Linked DNA regions of Homo sapiens: regions 1, 3, 4, 5 and 6 are each reported to be linked to region 2. Evidence: microRNA targets listed by miRTarBase, many of them from high-throughput screens and not tested one by one. Region 2 holds a microRNA gene; each other region holds the end of a gene's coding sequence.
The links. The annotated mature microRNA hsa-miR-8063 reads UCAAAAUCAGGAGUCGGGGCUU and lies in region 2 at 2,162-2,183, opposite strand. An mRNA with a match to its seed (bases 2 to 7 or 8) in the 3' UTR can be bound and repressed. Matches are read on the target gene's strand: a 7mer-m8 pairs with bases 2 to 8, a 7mer-A1 pairs with bases 2 to 7 and ends in A, and an 8mer does both.

Region 1 (4,088 bases), not on the chromosome of region 2:
TGGCCCGCCCTTCAGCCGCTGGGACCCGGCCCCGGGCCCTGACCGCCTTTCTCCCGTGCCCGCAGGTGTGGTTCAAGAACCGGCGCGCCAAATGGCGGAAGCGCGAGCGCAGCCAGCAGGCCGAGCTATGCAAAGGCAGCTTCGCGGCGCCGCTCGGGGGGCTGGTGCCGCCCTACGAGGAGGTGTACCCCGGCTACTCGTACGGCAACTGGCCGCCCAAGGCTCTTGCCCCGCCGCTCGCCGCCAAGACCTTTCCATTCGCCTTCAACTCGGTCAACGTGGGGCCTCTGGCTTCGCAGCCCGTCTTCTCGCCACCCAGCTCCATCGCCGCCTCCATGGTGCCCTCCGCCGCGGCTGCCCCGGGCACCGTGCCAGGGCCTGGGGCCCTGCAGGGCCTGGGCGGGGGCCCCCCCGGGCTGGCTCCGGCCGCCGTGTCCTCCGGGGCCGTGTCCTGCCCTTATGCCTCGGCCGCCGCCGCCGCCGCGGCTGCCGCCTCTTCCCCCTACGTCTATCGGGACCCGTGTAACTCGAGCCTGGCCAGCCTGCGGCTCAAAGCCAAACAGCACGCCTCCTTCAGCTACCCCGCTGTGCACGGGCCGCCCCCGGCAGCCAACCTTAGTCCGTGCCAGTACGCCGTGGAAAGGCCCGTATGAGCGGCCCCGCCCGTAGATCATCCCCGAGGGCGGGGGCAACGATTCACAGCCTCCGCGGACTGGGGTCATTTTGACTGGCTTGCTCCCGCCCCAGGGTCTGAAAGGGGTGTTTGGGCAGCTGGGGGGCACCGGCTCAGGAGAGGGCCTTCCCCTCCCAGCCCTGAGGGGTGGACTAGGCCCTACACACAGACCGCGCCCCTGGGACTAAAGCCAGGAACAGGGACCAGCTCCCCGGGGGCCAACTCACCCTTGGCCCATCCCGCCTTCTCCAGGCTTCCCCTCCCTCGTTTTCAAAGATAAATGAAATAAACGTGCGCGGACTGTCGAAGGCGTGATGATTCAAAGTTGCGCTTGAGTCCTCTTCCCTTCATCCTCCCCCACTGTCTACAGGCGAGCTGGATGTACAGGAACGAAGTGAGGGTCCAGGCTTCTAGGGACTCAGTCCCACTCACCACCCCCCCTACTCCAGGTCGGGGCAGCCCGGGATTCCTGCAGCAAAGAGGTGCGTGCGTGCGGGGGACGTGGGAAACCGGCTACCTGGCTGGCATCGGCCACAGCCGGTGCTGCGGCGCCACCTCGTGGTCTCAGGGAGGCTAGCTGGTAGATCTGGTCTCCAACGCTTCCTTGTAGGTGTCAGCTCTGCTATTCAGGGAGCCTATGACTTTAGATAAAGTTACTCCGCCTTTCTGCACCTGTTTCTCACTGTTCCTATGAGGGGCTTGGGTCTCTAACAGCAATAAAATTCTGGTCTGTAACAGACATTTGTTAAGTGCCTACCAGGCCTAGGATTCTTTCAGTGTCTGTGTGTGTGCCTCTCACCCTTCCACACACCCTCAGGCGTCCCACCTGCAGATCATCCCCTTGGTAGCAGCCTCCTGCCATCACAGCAGCCCTCTTTCCCCCCAAATCCCCCAACTCTCAAAATTTTGTTGAAATCTTTAATTTAAAAAAACAGAGCAAGAAGAAGAAAGATTTCTGGATAGAAATTAAATAATCAGCTCTTAGGACCCTCCTCCGCCCCACTCCCATCCCAGGGCCTGCTTGGCCTTCACATTAAAAACAGAAACATTAAAGTAACAGACCACACCCCCATCCCAAGGTCACCCTTCTTGTCTGTCAAAAATTCCAGCCACCTTGGGGCACACATCCTCTGGGGAAACCATGCAGGTAAGGCAACCTAATCATTCTCCCAAAACTAAGCCCAGCCTCTTGGTGCCCTGGAGAAGAGAGAGCCTGGAGCTTCATTGTTCTCTCCAAACCTTCACTGGCTCTTGGTCTTGGCTTTGACCTTGGGCCTGATGTAGGTCTGGCAGAAGAAGTGGGCAAAGAGGATGAAATAGGTCATATACAAGATGAAGGACCAGAATAAGTGTTCCATCGTGGTGTGGCATCCCTGATCCTGCCTCCAGATGTACGTGAGGATGCTGACGATGGCTCCTACAAACATCTGCAAGATCTGCAGGCTGGTGATGAGCATGGGCAGCATCTTGGGGGGCTTCACGTTGGCAGCCTTCAGAGTGTAGTAGGTGTACATGATGGCATGAACACCAAAGTTCATGGTGACGAACCAGCCTCCTGCAGGCACTTTGTTCTTGTATCCAAAGCTTGTGTACACGAGCACTGTGCTGTGGTGGTACCAGTGAATAAAGATGAGTGGCCGCTTACGCAGGATGATGAAGGCTGTGTCTCCTGGGAGATGGAGAGTCATAGTTGGCATACCACCCAGTGCTGGGACCACCCTCTGCACTGGATGTAGGGACACGGGAGAAATTCTCAGGGGAGGGAAGGGGGTCTTTGTGGCAGAGAATCTGTAGAGGGGCTTGGGTGAGAGGTATTATTGGGACCCAAGGGTAGGAAAGAGACCCTCCATGGGATGGGTGAAGGGAGGGCCCTGAGGAAGGATGCAGTTCACAAGGCACCAGAAAGACAAAGCTTTGCCACTCACCGAGTTCTATGACCTTGCTGAGAAGAAAGACCCAGGACCAGAATTTGACTGTGGAATTATCGATGAAGTTGATGAAGCACACGGTTTGCTTTAGGCCCCCGGTAAGTAGCACAGTCCCCATAATGCCCCACATCCTCACTGCCCCCAGGATACTGAAATGGGACAAAGGAAGATGGTGTAAGTGTCATCCCCAGGCACCAATAATCCACCCTTCCCCCGGCTTGGCCAGGTTACTGTGTTCCAAGCTCTACCACCTCCCCACCTGTCCACAGGGGGTGGGTCAAAGCTCCTGAGATCCTGAAGCCAATCTGGTAGATCCAATCAGTAGTCTAGAGGAGACGAGGGCTGGAGAAAGATCAGGGAATGCAGGGGGATGGGACTGAAAGTTGAGTTAAGGAATGGGGTTCTTGGGAGGGGTTAGGAGCCTGGGAGGAGATGTGTAGAGGGATAGGGGAAGACTGAAGGAGTTTGGGGGAGAAAATATGGGGAAGTTATTGGAGGGTCTTGAGAGAGGGTGTTAGGAGGTGACACTATTAGAGGCTGGAGAAATTAGTTGCGAGTACAGACTCTACGAAGGCAAGAGGGACAAAGCAGAGACCACCAGGTAGGGGTCTAAAAGAGAAGGAAAACAGGATAATATAACAGAAGAGGGTGAAGGCTGGGAGGGGAACTAAAGCCGAGAATGAGATGGGGAGAGTGTTACAAGGCAACTTGGGGACAGGATGGAGGTTGATGCAATCGGGAAAGCTTCAAGGGATAGAATGGTGGTCTAAGATCTAGAGAAGAGGCAGGGAGTGGGATGGGGTCTTACCTGAAGATTGCAAGGCAGAAGGACCAGAGGATGAGAGGCCCTTGCAGGTTGAAGCCCTTGCGTTCCTTCATGTAGTTCTGCCCCACAGCGATGAGAACCAGGTAGATCAGGGCTATGGGGAATGAGGTTGCCCTGGCAAGCAGAAGGCAGAGGGATGGGCTCATGGGTGGGTGCTGATTAGAGAAATGCCCACTCATCTCTCCAGGTGAGTGCTCTGGGTTGGAGTCCCAGTTCTGCCACTTACTAGCTATGTGACATTGGAAAAACCAACTTAATTCTCTGAGCCTTGGCTTCCTCATTTGTAGAGCGCGAATACTACATCTCTCCTGGGGGTATTAACGTATACAAAGTATCTAGCACAGGGCAGGAGCTATGTCCAAGGTTTCTGTGATTATTGCTCTCTCAGTGGGGTTAGAGGTGGGTGACGGCTGTCTGGCCCGCGCCTAGAAGCAGCCCAGGGCTGTGGTGTAAGAAGTGTGGCAATAGCTTCTCCCTGGTTGGGGCTCCTAGAAGCATACCAGGGCTGTGGCGTAAGAAGAATGTGGCAATAGCTTCTCCCTGGCTGGGGTATGGCAAATTGGTTGGAGCATAAAGTCAGCCTCCAAAACCTCTGGGGAGCTTTAAGGCAAAGCCAGAGAGCTCTTCCTGGGGAAAGCTTGGAAGAGCTCTCTGACTTCGC
Region 2 (4,088 bases):
CCATCATAAATTCATAAAGGGATGTCCGCTGTAACCAGTTGGCAAGTTCACTGCATAAACATCAACACCAATTTAATGACTGTGTACACATCGTAAACTAGAGAATCTTTATACAAAGAAATCAGATAAATCAAACATGAGCTGAGGCTAAGGAGAAAGCAATTAAAGCTTTAGGTTAAGGTGGCTGCGGGAGGGCACTGTGTCACGTTAGAGCAGAGAACAGAAAATGTGTTAATACAACTGCAGTATGTATAATTAAATTAATTAGTAATATAAAATGTGTTTAAAGCAACATCTCATCAACAGATTAATAGATAAGAAACTTTTAGAAGTTTTAATTTTCCCATTGTATGTGTTCAAAGAATAGGAAAAAAAAAACCCTCTGAAATTTCCTAAGGGGTTGATAAAAATAAAATTGCTGTGGTGGTGGGCTTGGGGGGGTGGGGGATGTAAAGTCGATTTACCTGCCTCTGGCTAGTAACAGGAAAAAGGAATAATCAGAACATAAAAACCTGTTTGGCCATATTTCATCTCCTTATAGCATATTGAAATGTTTTGGCGCCAACTCATCTCATTCTAATACCTCGAAGGCTGGTATAAAACACCTTTAAGGCACATTGTTTTCTGAGCAATTATTTAGAGTCAATGTCTAAGAAATGCTTAAGCATCACCTGGTAATACAAATTTTAAAGTTATATTTAAAACACCCAAGGAGGTTTTTACTGAACAAAAATTAGATTGCCTATATGCCAAAGCTCCTCATCAACTGAAAGCTGGAAGCTAAATTTGGCCGTAAGAAACTGGCTTGGAACTTCAGAAGTTCTGGGGCCAAATTCAGCCCTGTATTACTTGTATGCCTTGTTACATTAAAAAAAAAAAAAAAAAAAAAAAAAAAGGGCTGTTCCAGTGATAGCAAGCATTCCATTTATTCATCTCAAAAGCAATAAGATCCTAGAATGGAGCCTTCATAACACAAAATGCTTTTAAGTTTTCCCTGAGGGGAACACAATATACACAATTCATGTAAAAAGAAGAAAAATGAAAGCTAAGTATTTCAGTTAAGGGTCAGAAATCAATATTTCCTTAACAGCCTAAGCAACATGCATTACTCTTAATACAAATACTCAGAGACTTTACATTCTTCATAAAGGGAGATTTTCACATAATTGGGGTTGAAAGTGGCAGAATATGCTCTCCCAACTTAGTTTCTATTGCTGCAAAATGGAAAAGAATATATTTGGACAGCATTTCACTGATCCCTGTCATCCTCGGTTAAAACTTCTTACCTAAATGTCCAAGTGTGGAGCAACACGTAACTAAATTTTAATACATCTCAATGGAATATGATAAAGACATTGCAATATCAATAGGAGAACAATATAGTAACAGAAACTATAAATGTAAAACTAACTTTATTGAAGAAATGAGAATATGGTATTTTTCAGGTGGCAAAATTTTTTCATGATGTTCCGTTATGCTGTCAATAAAAAGTTTTAAAAAAGAAAAACTTCTGCCTGAGTAGCACAAAAGTAAGTTATGATAAGATGTAGTAGGAAGAGAATGAACCTTAAGAGATAAAGTGTAACTAAAAGGACTGAGTTTAAAAAAACAAACATCCTGACTAGCTGGTGAGCATTAACATTAGTCCTCCTTCTGTTCTCCAGAATGGAGCCAGAGTGATCCCTGCAAAGGACCCGTGTGATTTTGTCACTCTACTGCTTGGCATGCTTCAGTGGCTTTCCATTATTTTCAGGCTGAAGACGAAAATGTTTATCATGGCCTTCAAGGTACCCAATGATCTGGTCTCGAACTCCTGACCTCAAGTGATCCGCCCACCTTGGCCTCCCAAAGTGCTGGGATTACAGGTGTGAGCCACCGCACCTGGCCAATAGAAACTATTTTTAAAAATTCATTTATGTGTCTTATGCCTTTTAAAATATTTTTTGTCCTGTTTTCTCCTTCTTTCAATAGTGTACTCTGATATGATTCAAAGGAACCCCAGGGACCAACACCTCTCCTGGTTTCCAAAAGACCTTAATTTTACTACAGTTTAAGATTCAAGTGTATAACAAATTCTTTTTTTCTAAAGCAGAATTTAGAGGAATCAGTTGTGACAATTCATAGAGATACACTTTTTTTTTTCTGTGCATGAAAAGCAGTAAAGCCCCGACTCCTGATTTTGAAACCAATTTCTCATATCAAAAGTCTACACATCTGTTGAAACTGCCTCTATTGCTTAGGACTAAGAAACAATTTCTTTGTATGGGCTGACTGAACAACTATCTTTTAAATCTCTTAAGTATGTACTAGAATTAGTCTGTGTTTGCATAGACATCTTTTACTTGTCGATATACACCAACACAGCTGTGGAAGAAAGACTAAGCTTTAGTTTCCACTTGGCCATCGGAAACTAAAGTCACTTAATCTCTCTAAGCCTCAGTTTGCTCATCTATAAAATAGGACAATAATACCTGCTTTACAGGTATTTGGGAGGATTAAGTAAGAAAATGATAGAATCATGCTGGATAAGCTGTAGAGCATTTACAAATAGAAAACATAATCAAGATTCCACTTAGCTTGAGGATTCAGACACAGAGTTTTGCAGAGTGGCCAAGTCACAAAAGGGCTCTTCAAAGGCTTCTACTCTCTGGTGTGACACTGGCACAACACCTATTGCCCCGGTAGAAAGACCTTTATTTCAAAATGTTTCACTAGGAAACAGTTAAAAGCTGTTCTTTGGTTAAGCGCACTGACTCTTATTTGGATGCTGCTGCCTCTTTAAAGCTTAGATCTGCATTCTTCTAATGGAGAAAAGGAGAGTAGGCATAAAACTATAGAATAAAGAGCCTGGAACTTAGTAGGTGTTATAAAACATTGGTTTAAAAAAGAAAACATGAGTGAATAAACCCAAAGCGTTCATCTATTTTAAATTATCCGAATTGCCATGGTAAAATACAAGTTGTAATTAGAAGAATCAGGTTTGGTGCTTTGCACATAATAAGAGTTGAAAAAATAAAGAGGATGACTGGAGTAATGACGTTCAAATAAGAAGTTAAAATATTAACACTAAAAAACTGTAACTGAACTTTTAATTAAAAAAACCCTAAAAACTAATGACATTGTTTTCTTCTTATTTAAAAAAAAAAGCCAGTATTCCACTTGAAATGTTCGTGAGATATACAAATCCACTGATTTCCAAAATTAACCTTATGATATTTAAAGATGATATATGCCTTGTTGTCTATGGATACCTGCCAGAACTTGTACTTACGTATTTCTAAACACTTAATTCAGCAATATTTCACATCAATTTCCCCCTCGATTTTTCTAGCTATCATGCCTTGAGAGCAGTTCCTATCTTTGACCTTGAAAACTCTCAATAAAAATCAGTCACATTTCCATTTCCTAGAAATTCGAAGAGTGTCACCAAACTTTCAGGTACAGATAAATTCTTGTCTGGTTATCCTGTATTGTGAAATGCCAGCTCTTCATTATTTCAGAACATTCTATATCAGGGCTGATATTGAATCTATAATTTTGTGTTTTAAAACACCAAACATCATAGTGAAATTCAAAAAATGAATTTCAGAATTCTGAGTGTTCATATTTCAAGCTCCTACATAGTTCGTTTATTTTTTCTTTCCATCGAGCCACAGAAGTTGACCCCAGTAAGACCATTAAGTCCACTGATTTCATTAGTAATATTTTTGTTCACACTCCAAAAATCAAATTGTTCATATTCCAAAAATTAAATAATTTGGTTTATCAACATTTCAATGATTTTCCATATTCTCCCAAATTATTTGAGAGCTATGACATACCACGTTAACATTTACATATGAAAAACAGAAGCAAAAAAGCAATTTTCCTAATAGAAGGCATTTAATCACGTTGAAATAAGATCTTACCTTACAGGGCTGCCCCTCAGCCCACCTTATACTTTCTGGATGTTTAAGTCTGTGGCTTTGACTTACATGGGTTAACGTCCTCTGTAAGCTAAATCCAGTATCAGATGGATATGGCATGAGGAACCAGCCAGCATGAGGAACCAGGTCCTACTGTTAAATCTGCGTGCCATGTTCAGTTGA
Region 3 (4,088 bases), not on the chromosome of region 2:
CAGAGCCCCTGGCAGGGGCAGGGGGCCTGGGGTGGGGCGGCCGCGGCTACGAGGATTACCGGCGCTCCGGGCCACCCGCGCCCCTCGCCCTGTCCACCTGCGTCGTGCGCTTCGCCAAGACCGGCGCGTTGAGGGGCGCTGCCCTGGGTCCCCCAGCGGCACTACCTGCCCCTTTGACCGAGGCTGCGCCCCCAGCGCCCCCCGCTCGCCCACCCCCCGGCCCGGGCCCATCCTCTGCGCCTGCCAAGGCCTCCCCGGAAGCGGAGGAGGCAGCGCGCTGCGTGCATTGCCGCGCGCTCTTCCGTCGCAGAGCAGACGGGCGTGGCGGCCGCTGCGCAGAGGCCCCGGACCCGGGTCGCCTCCTGGTGCGCCGTCTAAGCTGCCTGTGGTGCGCCGAGAGCTTGCTCTACCACTGCCTGTCGGACGCCGAGGGCGACTTCTCGGACCCGTGCGCCTGCGAGCCGGGCCACCCGCGCCCCGCCGCGCGCTGGGCCGCGCTGGCCGCGCTCTCCCTGGCAGTGCCCTGCCTCTGCTGCTACGCGCCCCTGCGCGCGTGCCACTGGGTCGCAGCGCGATGCGGCTGCGCCGGCTGCGGGGGTCGCCACGAGGAGGCTGCGCGGTGAGGACGGCCTGGTGGGTCCCCTAGCCGGCCCGAGGACCCAAAATTGAGGGTCCAGGACCCCGGACTCCGTTCGGACCTAAAACCCAAACCTAGGCACATCCGGAACTTGGAGCTTGAGTTTGGATTGAGAGATCTCAGACCTGGAACCTGGAACCCAAACCTAGGACTGAGAGACCCCAGCCCCAGCTTCATTGGGGTGTCTGTCTAAGAAGTCCCAGGCGTCCTGAGTTCTGGCGTTCCCCCACCCCCACACCCCACGAGGAGGCTCCAGGCGTCCCCATACTTTGCATCTCAGAAAGGCCAGGGAGCACATAGATCCCGAAAAGGGCAGGTCCCTGTTGAAATGAACAACCTAGAACCCGGTCACGCCTGGCACCATGTCCCTCAGATTACAGCCCCACAATTAGTCAGGACTTGCCCATAACTGGCTCTGCCTTTATTCAACTCCCAGATCAGATCTTGAGACCATAGGACCTGGAGTCACCCACAAACAGTTCCTGAATATTCACCTAAGACCTGGTGCCCCCACATCTGAGACATTCTCATAGTCCCAGGACCCCTGAGACAGCAGGACCCCTGAGAAAGTTTCAAACAGAGTTTGAAACTCTGTTATGCTCTGGAATCTCCAGATGCTGCCCCTCAAATCTACCCACGACTTAGTGCCCACAGACCTGGCCTCCAGTCCGGGAACACTGAAGTCTAAGATGTCCAGGGAACTCCCAGACACCCTGGGACCCCAGACTCTTAAGATGCACTGAGTGCTCGGATATACTGAAACACGAGCTGTTCTCTTACCAAAATGACTTGGGAGACCCATCCCAGAGCCCCCAAGATCCAGATATCAGACACCAAGATGCTCTGGAAGCCAGGGATCAAAGACCTCCATAGGTCCACCCACCCCCAAGCCAGGGTTCTCAGGAGCTTTGGATATCATTTATAGGACTCAGAGGTGCCTGGGGTCCTCAGATGTGCGACTGAAGGCCACCAACACCTCAGGACCCGAGATACTGGTCTCGAGTTCTCAAATAGCCCTCTCTTGCAGTCCCTCCTGGACCTGGATTTTGAGACCCCAAATGTCCTGGAATCTTCAGCTTCTTTCTACCCACAGATTCCCAACCCCTTAAGGGCTGGGAGTCCAGCTCCCAGAAGAGGGGATGCTCATGGTGACCCAGACCTCTGATGCCCTTGGCCCTCAGCCCTTGAGTGACCCTAAGGTACTTTAGGAGCACTGGATCCAATACCCCAAAGGTGCCACTGACCCCCAAATGCAAGGCTCAAGACCCTACAACATTGGGATTGTTCCTGATCCAAGACCTTCATCCCTCCATACCAGAGGCGTTCAGATTCGAGGTGCCCCAAGACCCCAGCACCCTCAGACCCCAGATTTCTTTGGATTCAAACCTCTCTAGTCTGATGAACCCCAAGTTGCCTCTACACCTGATTCCCCCATCCCCACTTGTCGGACCTCAGAGACCTGCTGCCCCTTGAATCCTGTCATCCATAGGCCCCTAAAACCCCAAGGTTCCAGCCTCTGGAATTCTGGTCCCAAGGATCCCAGCCCAAGCCCCCAGCAATCCTCAGAATTACCCCTTTATCTTAGGGTGGGATCCCTACCATTTGGAACTCATTGTAGGACCACCCAGGGTGGGGCACAGTGGCTCATGCCTTGTAATCCCAGCACTTTGGGAGGCCAAGGGAGGAGGATCGCTTAAGGCCAGGAGTTTGAGACCAGCCTGGGCAATGTAGTGAGACCGTCTCTAAAAAAAAAAAAAAAGGACCAAGTAGGAGCTCCCTCACTGTCACGTCTAGGACCCAGCATTGTCACAGATGATTATGCAGGGTCTTCATTAAGTGAAGGCACACAGCCCAGGGTTTCGAGGAGCTGGAAGTCACACCAGTCTGCTGGCCACACTGTGCCCTCAGAAGAAGTGTGTGCAATGGAAACTTTCAGGCTAGTTATGGCTCTGCTGTCCCACAGCCCCCAGTCTTGCAGACCTTCCTTCAAGCACAACCTTAATTCCTAGTCCAGGTTCAAGTCCCACCTTTTATGTTCTCCCCCTCCATTAACCCCTTCTCTTCCTATTTATTTATTTATTTATTTATTTATTTTGAGACAGAGTCTCGCTGTATCACCCAGGCTGGAGTGCAGTGGCACAATCTCGGCTCACCACAACCTCCCCCTCCCGGGTTCAAGCCATTCGTCTGCCTCAGCCTCCCGAGTAGCTGGGATAACAGGCATGTGCCACCACACCCAGCTAATTTTTTGTATTTTGAGTAGAGACAGGGTTTCACCATGTTGGCCAGGATGGTCTCAAACTCCTGACCTCATGATCCACCTGCCTCAGCCTCCCAAAGTGCTGGGATTACAGGCATGAGCCACTGCACCTGGCTCTCTTCCACTTTAGAGTGAGAAGTTGCTTCAGGAAGTTTGAAAGCCTGTTTCATGGCCCACTGAGTCTCTTCTGTGCAAAGGGGGGTGCCACAGGCTTTTTTCCCCCAAGTGAAATGGGGCTTCCAGTGGATCGAAGATCTGGTGTCCTGTATGGGGGCCTCAAGGTCTTGGAGCAAGACAGTCTCAATGTTGTATGGGCTTGGGACCTGCATCTGGCCCCAAGCATCTGGAACTGTGCACTTAACCTTTCTTCATTACCCAGACTTGGATGGCCTTGTTGGGGTTCAAGGGATAGGTCCTCTGTCTCTTCCTTTAAATTATTAACTATTTATTACATCCGGAACCTGTGAGATTCAGCACTCCCAACCAGACCCTGGGATGGGTGAGAGAAAAGCGGGGGTGTCTCTCCCCTCCCCACTCTGCCCAGCTCTCATCACTGTCAGACCCACCAGAGCTGAGGGCGGAGGGATTGGGGGCTGGGGCAGCCTGGGTCCCCATGCCCCTCTCTGTGCCTCGGTCTCCCCCCTTCCATGGTGGGCGGGGGGGAAGCTCCATTCTTAACCTACCTCGTTTTGGGGAGGGGTGGGACGGGGGACCAGAGTGCTGTACGGTGCTGTGGGATCTGCAGATGAAGCGGTGGGGGCTAAGGAAAGGTCCCCTGGCCGCCACTTCCCAGCAGCGCCTCTCCCAGGTCCCCCAGTCCTGCTCCCTGCTGAGACCCACCTCTGATCCATGATTCCCCTTCATTGCCCCCAAATCAGGGGTACATGGAGGGCCGCCCTGGGAGCCAGGCAGACCTCAGACCCTGGAGCCCCCAGGCCCAATTTCCCAGCCGCTTGCCCCTCAGATCGGATGCTTGGCCCCCAGATTTGGGGGAGGCACCCCAACATATATCTTCCTGATCTTGTTTCTAAGCCAGTCTGTGACCTCAATATTGTTAGTGTCAGTGCAGGCTGAAGTGGTGGGGGAGGATGGGGGCCAAAGACCCAGCCTTGTCATCGGGGGAGGGGGCACGAGATCTGCTCCAAGAAATGTCTGTGACAAAGTCTCAGCCTGTGTTATTTATTTGCCTCT
Region 4 (4,088 bases), not on the chromosome of region 2:
AACGGCCAGAAGGGAGCCCTATATAGGAGAAGCACACCGGTCCTTTTGCTGTTGTGGTGATTATTACTGTTCTATGTCACATGTTCAAAAGATGCAATTGGTGGTGCAGATGTCCCAGCAGGGCCTGGAAAAGTGGTTCTTCCAGGTCTCTATGAGTCATGTAAAGCTCTAGTAAGAAGCTTTACTTGGGAAGAAAAAGTCTCTTATTAAGCCAATGTTCTTGCTTTCTTGCAAGATTCAAGTTAGTAATTCCCAGATTCACATTCTCAGAGTGGAAGCTGTCACCATCCTTAGCTTGTGGTAATCAAAGATGGGGCCAGGCTGCGGGAGGGCCCCTAGCAGCCTTGTCTGCTGGTGTTATTCTTTTCACACTTTTCCAGTCTGGTGGTAGGCTCGGAAATTGCTGAGAAGCACTGGGAAGAGGGTACATACAGTTCCAATCAGGGAACAGGCTGGAGAGGCAGTGGGAAGACGTTCCCTTTTTCAGCTTCACAGAACTACAGAGCTACACTTTCATAACATACCTTTCTTTTTTTTTCTTTTGCCCCCTTTCCCCAAGACAGGTTGAAGTCAAGGACCAACAAAGCAAGCAGGCTTTAGACCTCCACCATCCAAAGCTCATGCCCGGCAGTGGACTCGCCCTCGCTCCATCTACCTGCCCCCGCTGCCTCTTTCAGGAAGGAGCCCCTTAGGAGGACAGGCCTGCAGCATCCTGGTCTCGGGAGGCTTCTGTCATTGCTCACACACAGTTCAGATTTCCACCTCTTTATAGACAAGAAGTGAATTTGCCTGGGGCAGAACACCCACCCAAAGAGTCCCCACTTAACAATACCCCCCCCCCACGGCAAGAATGCCCAAATCCGAATGACCCCAGTTTTCCTAATGAGTAAAATGATCCCAGATGTGCCCCAGAGCATGACGCCTGCAGCTCCGGTTTCATGCAGGAAATTGGTTTTGGAGAGTTTTGGCAAGTTGGAAAGCCACTTACTGGCTTTTGACATGACTTCTCTTGGAGAATAAGTGGACTCCAAGCTAACTCTTTGCAAATGTAAACACATGTCCATCTTGTAATAAATGCAAAATGCCCGTGCAGCAGAAGCATGCGACTTTCATATCCTTGCCTAGAATAGGCTGCATGGTGTATGTCAGTGAGGGCCACGAGGCGTCGGCTTTAGACACAGATCATAGCTCTACAGGAGTTTATGAATTTGAAGCTTATGGGATTTTGGCAGAGAAATTTTCAGCTGTGCTTGATACCCACCAAAAGAATGTATCTCGAAAGAATGAAGGAAGAAGAAAAAAGGATCCTTGATGTTTGTGACAAGAAAATGAGAAAGTTAGTATCTGCAATACAGAGCTTGTTCCTGTTCAGTGACTGACCCTCTGTATTCTGTATAGACACCAGGCCGATACACAGTGGAGTTCCCAGGCCTTGTTTGCAGGAAGCCGACTGTAAAGACAGCCCCAGCTCAAGGCTATTAGGTTGAATATTTGCTTTCATGAGTAAATGTGGATCTTTGGGGAATGGCTTCAAAATAAGTCACGAACACAAATTCTTTGTAAATTATGTAAATTCCTGTTTATATAAATTGGCAACAACTTATACCGTCTGACAGTTCAAAATCTCTTTCAGCTGCGCTCTTCCCACCGAGCCGAGCTTACTGTGAGTGTGGAGATGTTATCCCACCATGTAAAGTCGCCTGCGCAGGGGAGGGCTGCCCATCTCCCCAACCCAGTCACAGAGAGATAGGAAACGGCATTTGAGTGGGTGTCCAGGGCCCCGTAGAGAGACATTTAAGATGGTGTATGACAGAGCATTGGCCTTGACCAAATGTTAAATCCTCTGTGTGTATTTCATAAGTTATTACAGGTATAAAAGTGATGACCTATCATGAGGAAATGAAAGTGGCTGATTTGCTGGTAGGATTTTGTACAGTTTAGAGAAGCGATTATTTATTGTGAAACTGTTCTCCACTCCAACTCCTTTATGTGGATCTGTTCAAAGTAGTCACTGTATATACGTATAGAGAGGTAGATAGGTAGGTAGATTTTAAATTGCATTCTGAATACAAACTCATACTCCTTAGAGCTTGAATTACATTTTTAAAATGCATATGTGCTGTTTGGCACCGTGGCAAGATGGTATCAGAGAGAAACCCATCAATTGCTCAAATACTCAGAAAGTACTGTCAAAAGCCTAATAAAAAACCTAAAGTTTGCTCTGATTTGTGGGTTTTTTTCCTCACTGTCTTTATGTGCGGGGTTGCGCATCAACTTTTCATGGACCTCTGGAGAGGACGGGAAGAAGTTGTGGTTTGGGAAGTGGAATCCATCTAAAGTCAGTTATGGAGCTAGATGAGGGGCTGCCTGAATATTAAGGAAGAAGTGGGGTTTGGGGACCGTTCCAAGAAGATAAAACATTCACAGCAGTCAGGAAGAGAGAAACCTGGGGAGAGAGCTGGTTCTTCCCCTAGGCCATTGTGCCTTCCTAGCAATAGGGAGGCTTCCTTGTGGCCCTGCCAAAGATGCCTGTGCAGCCCAGGATTCTAGGGAGAGGGCACTGCTGGGGGGCTCAGGATTCTATGGAGAGCACTGCTGGAGGGCTCAGGATTCCAGGGAGAGGGCACTGCTGGGGGGCTCAGGATTCTACGGAGAGCACTGCTGGAGGGCTGAGGATTCTAGGGAGAGCACTGCTGGGGGGCTCAGGATTCTAGAGAGAGGGCACTGCTGGGGGGCTCAGGATTCTAGGGAGAGCACTGCTGGGGGGCTCAGGATTCTAGGGAGAGGGCACTGATGGGTGGCTCAGGATTTTACGGGGAGAGCACTGCTGGGGCGCTCAGGATTCTAGGGGGAGAGCACTGCTGGGGGGCTCAGGAGTCTATGGAAAGCACTGCTGGGGGGCTCAGGATTCTAGGGAGAGCACTGCTGGGGGGCTGAGGATTCTAGGGAGAGGGCACTGCTGGGGGGCTCAGGATTCTAGAGAGAGGGCACTGCTGGGGGCTCAGGATTCTAGGGAGAGCACTGCTGGGGGGCTCAGGATTCTAGGGAGAGGGCACTGATGGGTGGCTCAGGATTTTAGGGGGAGAGCACTGCTGGGGCGCTCAGGATTCTAGGGGGAGAGCACTGCTGGGGGCTCAGGATTCTATGGAAAGCACTGCTGGGGGGCTCAGGATTCTAGGGAGAGGGCACTGCGAGGGAGCTCGATTCTAGGAGAGGGCACTGCTGGGGGGGCTAAGGATTCTAGAGACAGGGCACTGCTGGGGGCTCAGGATTCTAGTGAGAGGGCACTGCTGGGGGCTCAGGATTCTAGGGAAAGGGTGTGGCTGCTGAGTTCTTGATAACCAGAAGACAGCAATGATCACACCTGCAAGTCTTTAAAGCTTATAAGACGTCTTGGGGGATTGGGGATGTTCGGAAAGAGTGGGGTTTCCTTCATTTTCTTTCTTACTTCCTTTCCTACCTTCTCCACCTGCCTTTTGAATAAAGAATCAGAGACCGTGGGAGGCAGGGAATTGGACAAAGACAGGCCCAGCCAAAGAGCAAAGAGAAATCCAAGAAGAGGAGTAGGTTTGAGTTTGATGGCTACCTGATCTGAGAAAACCCAGGAGCCTCTTGTTTTAATTAAAGTCATCTTAGAGAGTTTTGACTTTGATGGACTGAGAGCGTTGGGTTTTTTCTGCAGGATGTGGGGCAGCACACAGCAGGAGCTGCAGCGTTCACTCGAGGCACTAACAGGTCCTGGAGTCCAGGAGCTGCCCAGGTGCCACGGAGGCCCCAGGCAGAGGAGGACAGCCAAGGACTTCCAGGAGTCATGGGCAGTCCGAGGCCCAGACGTGGCAGGCTTTTCTGGCATCTGGGTGGAGGAATGAAGGAGCAGTCTATGGATTTATGAGCAGGATTGGCTATGGAAACTGTAGGGCCCCTGGCTTAGAAGGAGTAAGAACTTCAGATCGTGCATTAAACCACGGGCGTCCAGCCCTTCTGAGCCCGGGATCCTGTTCACCTGTGAAGGTTGCCTCAGCTGAAGCCCAGCAAAAAAAGGCTGTGGAGTCTGGAGACCTGGATTTGACACCATGTCCTTTAGGGAA
Region 5 (4,088 bases), not on the chromosome of region 2:
CTCACTGAAGCTCAAATAAGTAGTAACCTTTCATATCTTAATTCCTCCCTAAATTGTTTGCATCCTAAGAAAATGTCAAAACAATAGCAAGTACACAGATTTAGTATTTCACCAGTGACTTCCAGAGAGCTAGAAACAGGATTTATGAAGAATCCACGTTATGATTTTCATTATTCAATAGCTAATGTTACATGGATAAATACATTATTACTGTTATATTATTGCTTACTACTGACTGGATTTCTTCATCATACTCCTGAGCATCATGAACTGAAAAAACTATAGAAATGATAGCAATATCATCTGATTAACAATGGGCAGATCAGTCCTGGTGCACAATGCTTTATACATGAGGCCAAAAATGACTTTGGATTAAGAATATTCTAGTAAAACTTCTGCATCTAAAAGGAGCAGGAAGAATGCATACATTTTAATAATCTTCAAAAGACCAGTTTAGCTAATATCAATATATATTTAGAGGTTGTTGTAATTTCTATTTTTTCTGTATCCGTTCAACTGTCCTGTGCAAGGCAAAAATGAACCAAGTATGTGGTCAAGAGTAGTGGGCATTCACATTCAGACAATTTGTGTATTCTTATAAATGTGTTTAATTACAACTGCTTCAAAAGAATCCCAGCTTTTCAAAAGTTTATTTTAAGTTTGGAGACTAGACAAGGTCATACTGGTTTTACATCCTACGTGATATAAGTATATATACAAAGAAAAAAACAACATTGGAATATTACACAGCTTGAAGGTTTGCAAAGGTTATTTGTGTCTTAGTTATTTCTGCACTTAATGACACATCAGACGCATTGAGTATATTTCATAAGTTGTTGACTAGCAAAGATACAATCATTAGTAACCCAAGTCTTCAAAATTCACACCAAACTTTATGAAGTCATTCAGAAAGAGAAAGTCAATCCTAAAATTAAAATTGGCAACTATGATAAATACCTTCAAAAGGATGTAGATATAATGGAGATGTTTAAAAGTTTAGTTTCATTAATTGTAAAATTAGCATGTTATATTTACTCAATATAGTGAAGACTAGGTGATTCTTACATGTATTCTACTTATGGTACTGTACTGGTTTTAGTGTGAATTTACATAGAATAAATTTACTTCACTTTCATGTCATCGACATGAATGACACAAAAGCTACTTCATAATACTACTTTACAATAGTTTTCAACATTTCCATATGGTGCGACCCCTTTGCTCTCATCAATTTTGGGTGTCATGAGAACAATAGGTATCCCGTTGGACATGATGTATTGCGAAGAGCATATAAAGCAGAGGGAAAATGAAAAAGCAAGAGAAACTCATTTCAATGCTTTTTCTAAAAGGTAACAAATATAATTTTAATCAACTTCCTTGGAAAATATTTTTAAAACAGGTATCAATAGAAAAAATTACAAAACATCATATGAAGCTATAAATAATTTTGAAAAACTATATCATCATAAAGCGTAAGTAATAATCTTAAAAATACACTCTTAAGAAGGTATGTAATTTGCAAAGGAAAATGGCTAGATATCTGATGGGACAGTAAACCTTGAAAGAAACTGGCTAAAGAGTAAGTGTGTGTATATTTCTGAACCTAAGTAATTATTTGTCACGACTTTAAAATTTAGCCAGTTACAAATATTTTAAAATCCTAACTTTAAAGTTATCTAAAAAAGGCAATATGGAGGAAATAGTAATTTTGTTTTTGAAAGATGTTGAAAACTGATCACCATTTCAGAGGCTTCAAATTCATAATTTCATAATAAGAACAAGAAGTAGAAAGCATATGGGCAAGGAACAAATATGTGGCCAGCCAGTCCCCTTAGACGAACTAATTTTGTTCTTATTAAAAATGCCAATACAATTGACTTTCTCTTTAAATTCTTCACTATGATTGAAGACCACTCCATATATACATCATTAAGAAATGCTGTTAACACATGGACAGACAAGACAGTAACAGTCTAGTGGCTTTTGTTATGCAGCACAAATATTAAAGGAAAAAAATAGCAGTGTTGCGTAGGATCTTAACATTTCATACACATACCATCCTTTCTTTTCCAATACACTTAATTTAAAACTCCAATAATTCTGTCTAAGCCTTATAAAATAAATACTTGTAAAGCTTATAAATTAGATGTTGAAGACTTTTATGGAGGCAGTGTGAGCTTTAATTTGAGAGACATGTCAATGAAACCTCCAGTATCAATAACAAATTGTTATGATAATTGCTTATTTTTTCAGGACCTTTGAAGCAAAATAAATAGAAATCAGTTTTCATCTTGAAAATGGTTTACTACTTTGTCATTAGTAAACACTTTGCTTCTCACAAATAACTCCACCTGTGCCTTCCTGGGAAACTACCACCAGTTTCAAATCTCAATAAGATGTTAGTTTCACAGGAAATGTGGAGCTGAACAAAGAAATGATGAGTATGCTTGGCCAAACTATGCAGCACTATATTAATATTTCTTTGCTAAATTTTTTATAAAATAAACAAATAAGCCGATTTTTTAAAGTAAATATAAGGATATGTAATTACCATCTAAATGAAGATTTAAATTTAAAGAGACATATATATTTTTTGTTCTTTTGTGCAAACTGAGAGTATGGGATTCTTTATGAAGCAATTATTTGGAAATTAAATAGTTATGGCTTCCTTCAAAAATAAAACTGCAGATTTAATTAACGAATATTAAATACAGATCAATCTACTGATAGGCAGTCATGTTCTACATATATGAGTAAACATGACACTTCTTTTAGTCAACTAATAGGAAATTCAATTAGAAAAAAATTGAATTATTCAGGTAATATACAATATTAAGAATGTAGAATAGAACTAAAAGAAAAAGAAGTCACATAATCTCTTATTAGAAATAATGAAAGTAAAATGAGAATTATAATATCAGTACTGCATGTTACATATTCTTCTTTAAAATTTTGTAATAAACATTGACAGTGTTTGGTAGGCACAGGGAAACAGGATAACGTAGAGTCATTACAGAAGAAAAAAACTTATTGCTAACATTGCAGTATTCCTTTTATCAGAATTAGGTGAGTATTGATTGTAAAAGCTCTATCAACTCTTGCTCTTATTTGATGACTTTGAGACTTTTTTACTCTTGCTATAAAAAGAAGGCTACTTTCTTTCCCTAATATATTTCTACCAATGCGAATAATTCAGGAAACAATGAGAGAAAAGTAATTCACACTTAATGTGTTGTTACTTAAGAGATTTGACGGATAAAATAAAATCAAATTAAATCATTGAAAAGGCAGGCTTAGACCCCCTTAAAAACACCGTTAGTTGCCTACCATAATTTGAGCACTTTTTCATGAAAAAAAAAAAAAAACCATTCAGTTTCCTACAGATTTTGCACAGTTCATTCCATGGAGATACTTTTAGGGAAATAGGGAAGAGGGTTGTGAAATGTAGCCTCCCCTCATTCCTCCTCTGTGCAGCCCAGCAGCTCTGACCGCAATGTGATCCTCCCGTACCAGGACCAAGGAAGGATTCTTATGTGTCGTGCATAGATGGGAGGGTCGATGACATTTTTTCTGTGAGTGTCATTGTCAAAATTTCCCTGGAAAACCTAATAAAGAAGAGCAGAAAAATGTCAGTCACACAGCCTTCTTTCTTTGAAATTATTTTTATGTTCCTGTTTGGAACATTTTCCCCAAACATGATATTTGATAACTATTCATTTTCTTTTCTTCAAAATATATTGCAGCTTCTTTTTAATAATAATTATTTTAAATTAAATGGTCAATTAATGTTTAAAGAGTTAAACCTTTATTGTTTAATGCAGACATTCATAGGTCTATCATTTTCCTCTACTTGTTTCTCTCAATTAAAAAAAATACAACAGGTATTCATTTTTTGCTTATGTCACAGGCTGACGTTAGTCATGTAGCTTGCTGAAGATGCTCTCTTCCACGGGGTGACTCAGAGATCCAAGCTGCTTGCAAAGTACAGCTATCATCTGGAGCAGGCGGCCTCCACATTCACAAGGGGCAAGGGGAGGGAGAGTTAGCAGACTGTGCAGAGTGTTTAAGAGAACAAGCATGGAAGCAGC
Region 6 (4,088 bases), not on the chromosome of region 2:
ATATGTAATATGTCAGGAGAAGACCAGCTATAAAAAAAAAAACAGTAAGATAAAGTGGAGTCTTACCCAGTACCTGGCAGACAGTGGGCACTCAAATATTTCTAAGTGAATGAAGATAGTATCTGTATGCTAAAGCTAATACCTTTTTTCTCTTTCCAGGTCCATCGCCATCATCTTGGCTTATGCTGGCCAATTCCAGATACTTACATGAATTCAAGACCAGTTATTATCAACATGAACCTGAACAAATGTGACTCTGCCTTTGATATTAAGTGTTTGTTTAATCATTTTTTAAAAATAGATAATCAGAAATTTGTTAGACTCAAAGATATAATATTTGATGTATAAAATGCAAATAAAATTAGTTTATCATTATATTCTAATCTTGAATATTCTACCATATTTAAAAATATCTCAAGGTTTCTGTTCATTATGAAACATCAATATGTTTTCTACCATTTGTGAAGAAATGAATTTTCCAGTTTCAAGTACCTATTCAAAATTTTATTAAAAACCAGCAAATTAATTTTAATCTCTAGCCATAAAAACATAAGTAATAGTAAGCTCCTAAGCTTGGACAAAGGCTGGATTCTCTTCACTATAACTGAGTGGTAATTTAAAGACAACAATTTAATGTCACTAATTTTCAAAATTAAATAGTTTAAGCTCAATTTAATTTTGCTAGATATTTAACAAAACATACGGCTCAACCTCATAACCTATATGTGTGTATGTCTACATCTGTGTATATATCATAGGATTTGAGAATCTTAACACATGTATAAATAAGTATATATAAACTCCAATTTTAAATCTTAAAATTGCTGAATTTACCCTCATATTCTTTAAAAAACTTAAAGCATTATGAATGTAGAGAAATTCACCAGAGCTCACTGCCTATTTGATGGCTGTAACAAGTCTTCAAGTATATACTTTTATAATAAGTTGAAAATTTCATATAATTTTATTTATTAAGAATTCCAATCTAAGTATAAAGGTACAAGGTAGTGAGAAGGAAATACTACAGTTCGGAGAACTGCTTATTTCCAAGTATATTTAACTTATAAAGTTAATAAATAGTTAAATGAAACAAAGTTTATAGGTGACCTTTAGTAAATGGGGAAATTAACAGGACTTTCTTCTTCATCTTCAAACTCTTCAGAAGCAGCAACAGGGCTAGTTAATTCAACTCCCAATTGTTCTGAAAGTTTTTTTACCTTCTCTTCTAAGAGAATATTCTTCTTCACTTCTTCCTTGTAATTATACTTAAGATCTTCAATTTCTTCAAAAAATGAAGGATCAAAATTTTCCAGTTCTTTTTTCAGCTTCTTTATTTCCTCCTAATGGAAACATTATCTTTAAAAGTTGCATATAGGAAATATACATATTTTACGTTTGAACAAGGAGATTTAATTGTAAATATGAAAGCCAAAGTATTCCTGAATGGTCAAATACAGCAATAAAGGCAGAAGAATTAAGATTTTTCTTTGTTCCATTGTACAGTGTAAATAACTAAGTTGTTAACTGTCAAGTCCAGTTATGTATTCTGTAAGTTGTGTTCTAGTCTTTGACTAAAATTTATCATCTCTTATAATGGGACTTAATCTTTCTCTAAAAGCATATAAGAGCTTGTCAATAGAGCAATCAATCAAAAAGATTTTGTGATTCATAACATTGAAGTTAGTCTGGTTAAGAGTTTTGGTTTAGACTTCATTTATATTTTCCTTACTAATATCTAATATTTAATGAATAATGATCAATTTTTTATAAAGTTATTAATATGATCAGGGAAACCTTTGGGACTTCTGACAGGCATCTGGTGAAGAGACAATTCAAGCCTTAGTGACTATTTAGAATAGCCAGTGATCACTAGCTAATTCTCATATCCATGCCTTTTTGTCCTGTTTACAGTCTTAAAAGAGGTAAAACAGCAAATATTTTTTTAAGGGAACTATAACCTTAGGATTCCTGAAAAGAATTTCAAAAAAAAAATAAAGACACTGTTGCCAATGTGACCCAAAACTTAAGAACATACTAATGGCATATATTTGTTACAATTAAAAAATAAATTTACTACTTAATCCTATGTTGAGTCTGAATTTTTTGTTAACTCTAATATGTTAGGAATAGTCAGATGAACATAATTAACTTTGCAATATAAAGGTCAAATATAAGATGTTATTACTGAATTTTTTAGGATACGTAGTTAAAGATGGTAATGAAAATAGTTTTCAACAGCTGTTTTCACAAAACGATACTAAAATATAATTAAATATTACCTTCAAATGCTGCTTTTCTAGATCTGACATTTTGAGCTGTGTCTCTAGATCTTTTATTTTTTCCTTTAGTTGATCAGCATCTGTTGAAAAAGTCATACAAATTAGACTCAGCTTTTTCCCACTACGAATGAGTTCAAGGTAATGGATTTGTTCTAGAGAACAGAGATACATTTTATGAAACCTAGAACCTGGAAAACACTGGATGTTATGGCTGAAATACTTCAGGATGTAAACACTTAATGCTGCCTCCCTCCATCAAGTATTATAATTTCATAGCAGGCAGAAAGAGGTATGTGCTAGGTATTAGAAGTGTAGGCCAAGTTATTTTTTCTTCACATGATAGAAATTTTACATGGAAAAAATCCTAAAGCCAGGGAAACTTGTTAGGTACTAAAAGTACAACAGAAGAAAAGCAGACTGTTGGGTAAGGGACTATAACCATAAGCTAGCCAAATGCTCCCGCTATCCAACACAACACTGGCTATTCCATGTAGGTTATTACACATTTACTGTGCAATTACTATGTGCAAAACGTGTCATGCAGGCTGTGTAATACAAAGATAAGTAAGACATAGCCCTGATACTTTGGTAGGAAAACAAAAGTCTCCAAATATAGCACAAAAGTTCTAATTTATTGGATTCACCCTCCAAGTTAACACCTCTAACTTTATCAGCAGGCAAATAGGATTTTTGCTTTAATGCTATCTTTGCTAGATATCTCTTTTCTTTATATTATACTACATTTAATAAGTCATATTTTACAGCCATTGAAAAATAATAAAATACTAAAAGTTTGCGAAAGTAAGGGGCAGCAAACATTTTCATGGCTGGGACAAGTATCTTTTTTTTTTTTTTTTTTTTTGAGACAGTCTCACTCTGTCGCCCAGGCTAGAGTGCAGTGGTGCAATCTTGGCTCACTGCAACAACCACTGCCTCCCAGGTTAAAGCGATTCTCCTGCCTTAGCCTCCCTTGTAGCTGGGATAACAGGCAAGTGCCACCATGCCTGGCTAATTTTTATATTTTTAGTAGAGACAGGGTTTCACCATGTTGGCCAGAGTGGTCTCGAACTCCTGACCTCATGTGATCCACCCACTTCAGCCTCCCAAAGTGCTGGGATTACAGGTGTGGTGTGCTACTGTACTGGGCTTGGTATAAATATCTTAAAAGTTATCTTGCCATTTATATAGACAGTGATTTAGAATTTCCAAAACAGTTCTGGTTTGATCTTAAGCCTTAATCTTTGAAAAATGACAGGTAATCTGTCTACTTAGGAAATAAGGAATTTTGAGGGTTCAGAAATTCCCTTAAGAAACTGAGGAATGGAAAGATTAGAGAACTATCTATGGCCATATGACCCTTAATGCACATGCACCTGATCTCTGATCTCAGAAGCTAAGCACTGTTGGGCCTGGTTAGTATATGGATGGAAGGAAAATTATAAAATTTTCCTCACATCAACAGCATTAATACTGTGTCTAGTGTACATACCAAGCTGGCTGCTATGAGACATATTTTGAGAGTATTTAATATGTACTTTTAGTTACCAAGACGTAGCATAGCATAGCGGGTTAAGGACTAGGAATGCCAAGGAGCTGTGGAGTTTCATACATTTAGATTTTAATCCTGCCTCTATTTCCTAGCTGGCTTAGGGAATGGTTACTTAACCACTTTGAATTTGTTTATCACATAAAATGGAGACAGTAATACCTATCATATATGGTTGTAAATATAGAATGCTTGTAAGGCAATTAGCATAGTGTCTAGTACAACTCACACATGATGGCTTTTATTACAAATTAGTAATAGGA

Region 1: miRTarBase lists PITX3 as a target of hsa-miR-8063. Seed matches in the 3' UTR shown: 7mer-A1 at 721-727.
Region 3: miRTarBase lists SPRED3 as a target of hsa-miR-8063. Seed matches in the 3' UTR shown: 8mer at 1,680-1,687, 7mer-A1 at 2,728-2,734 and 7mer-A1 at 2,890-2,896.
Region 4: miRTarBase lists EDN3 as a target of hsa-miR-8063. Seed matches in the 3' UTR shown: 7mer-m8 at 1,222-1,228 and 7mer-m8 at 1,925-1,931.
Region 5: the mRNA of EDIL3 is a reported target of hsa-miR-8063. Seed matches in the 3' UTR shown: 7mer-A1 at 875-881.
Region 6: the mRNA of RLIG1 is a reported target of hsa-miR-8063. Seed matches in the 3' UTR shown: 7mer-m8 at 1,656-1,662.

The regions. Positions count from the first base shown.
Region 1 is chr10:102,227,079-102,231,166 of GRCh38, reverse strand. PITX3 (paired like homeodomain 3) reads left to right here. Exons shown (of 4, transcript NM_005029.4): 4 at 66-978. The coding sequence ends at 653. ELOVL3 (ELOVL fatty acid elongase 3) reads right to left here. Exons shown (of 4, transcript NM_152310.3): 2 at 3,410-3,541; 3 at 2,599-2,750; 4 at 1,578-2,342. The coding sequence ends at 1,915. It also overlaps a transcript of GBF1 not described here. Among named protein-coding and RNA genes, the nearest start is that of ELOVL3, 2.8 kb to the right of the region's middle. RefSeq lists silencers at 415-514, 525-784, 1,141-1,309.
Region 2 is chr15:36,970,670-36,974,757 of GRCh38, forward strand. It overlaps MIR8063 (microRNA 8063), which reads right to left and starts at 2,232; the gene lies at 2,152-2,232. The region is part of intron 8 of MEIS2 (Meis homeobox 2); the gene reads right to left.
Region 3 is chr19:38,395,523-38,399,610 of GRCh38, forward strand. SPRED3 (sprouty related EVH1 domain containing 3) reads left to right here. Exons shown (of 6, transcript NM_001394336.1): 6 at 1-4,065. The coding sequence ends at 623. Among named protein-coding and RNA genes, the nearest start is that of FAM98C, 5.5 kb to the right of the region's middle.
Region 4 is chr20:59,323,768-59,327,855 of GRCh38, forward strand. EDN3 (endothelin 3) reads left to right here. Exons shown (of 5, transcript NM_207034.3): 5 at 564-2,225. The coding sequence ends at 692. Among named protein-coding and RNA genes, the nearest start is that of EDN3, 25 kb to the left of the region's middle.
Region 5 is chr5:83,939,964-83,944,051 of GRCh38, forward strand. It overlaps EDIL3 (EGF like repeats and discoidin domains 3), which reads right to left. Exons shown (of 11, transcript NM_005711.5): 11 at 591-3,605. The coding sequence ends at 3,456. Among named protein-coding and RNA genes, the nearest start is that of HAPLN1, 220 kb to the left of the region's middle.
Region 6 is chr12:88,048,075-88,052,162 of GRCh38, forward strand. It overlaps RLIG1 (RNA 5'-phosphate and 3'-OH ligase 1), which reads left to right. Exons shown (of 7, transcript NM_001009894.3): 7 at 160-2,086. The coding sequence ends at 348. It overlaps CEP290 (centrosomal protein 290), which reads right to left. Exons shown (of 54, transcript NM_025114.4): 53 at 2,280-2,359; 54 at 942-1,340. The coding sequence ends at 1,110. It also overlaps the pseudogene RNA5SP364. Among named protein-coding and RNA genes, the nearest start is that of RLIG1, 15 kb to the left of the region's middle.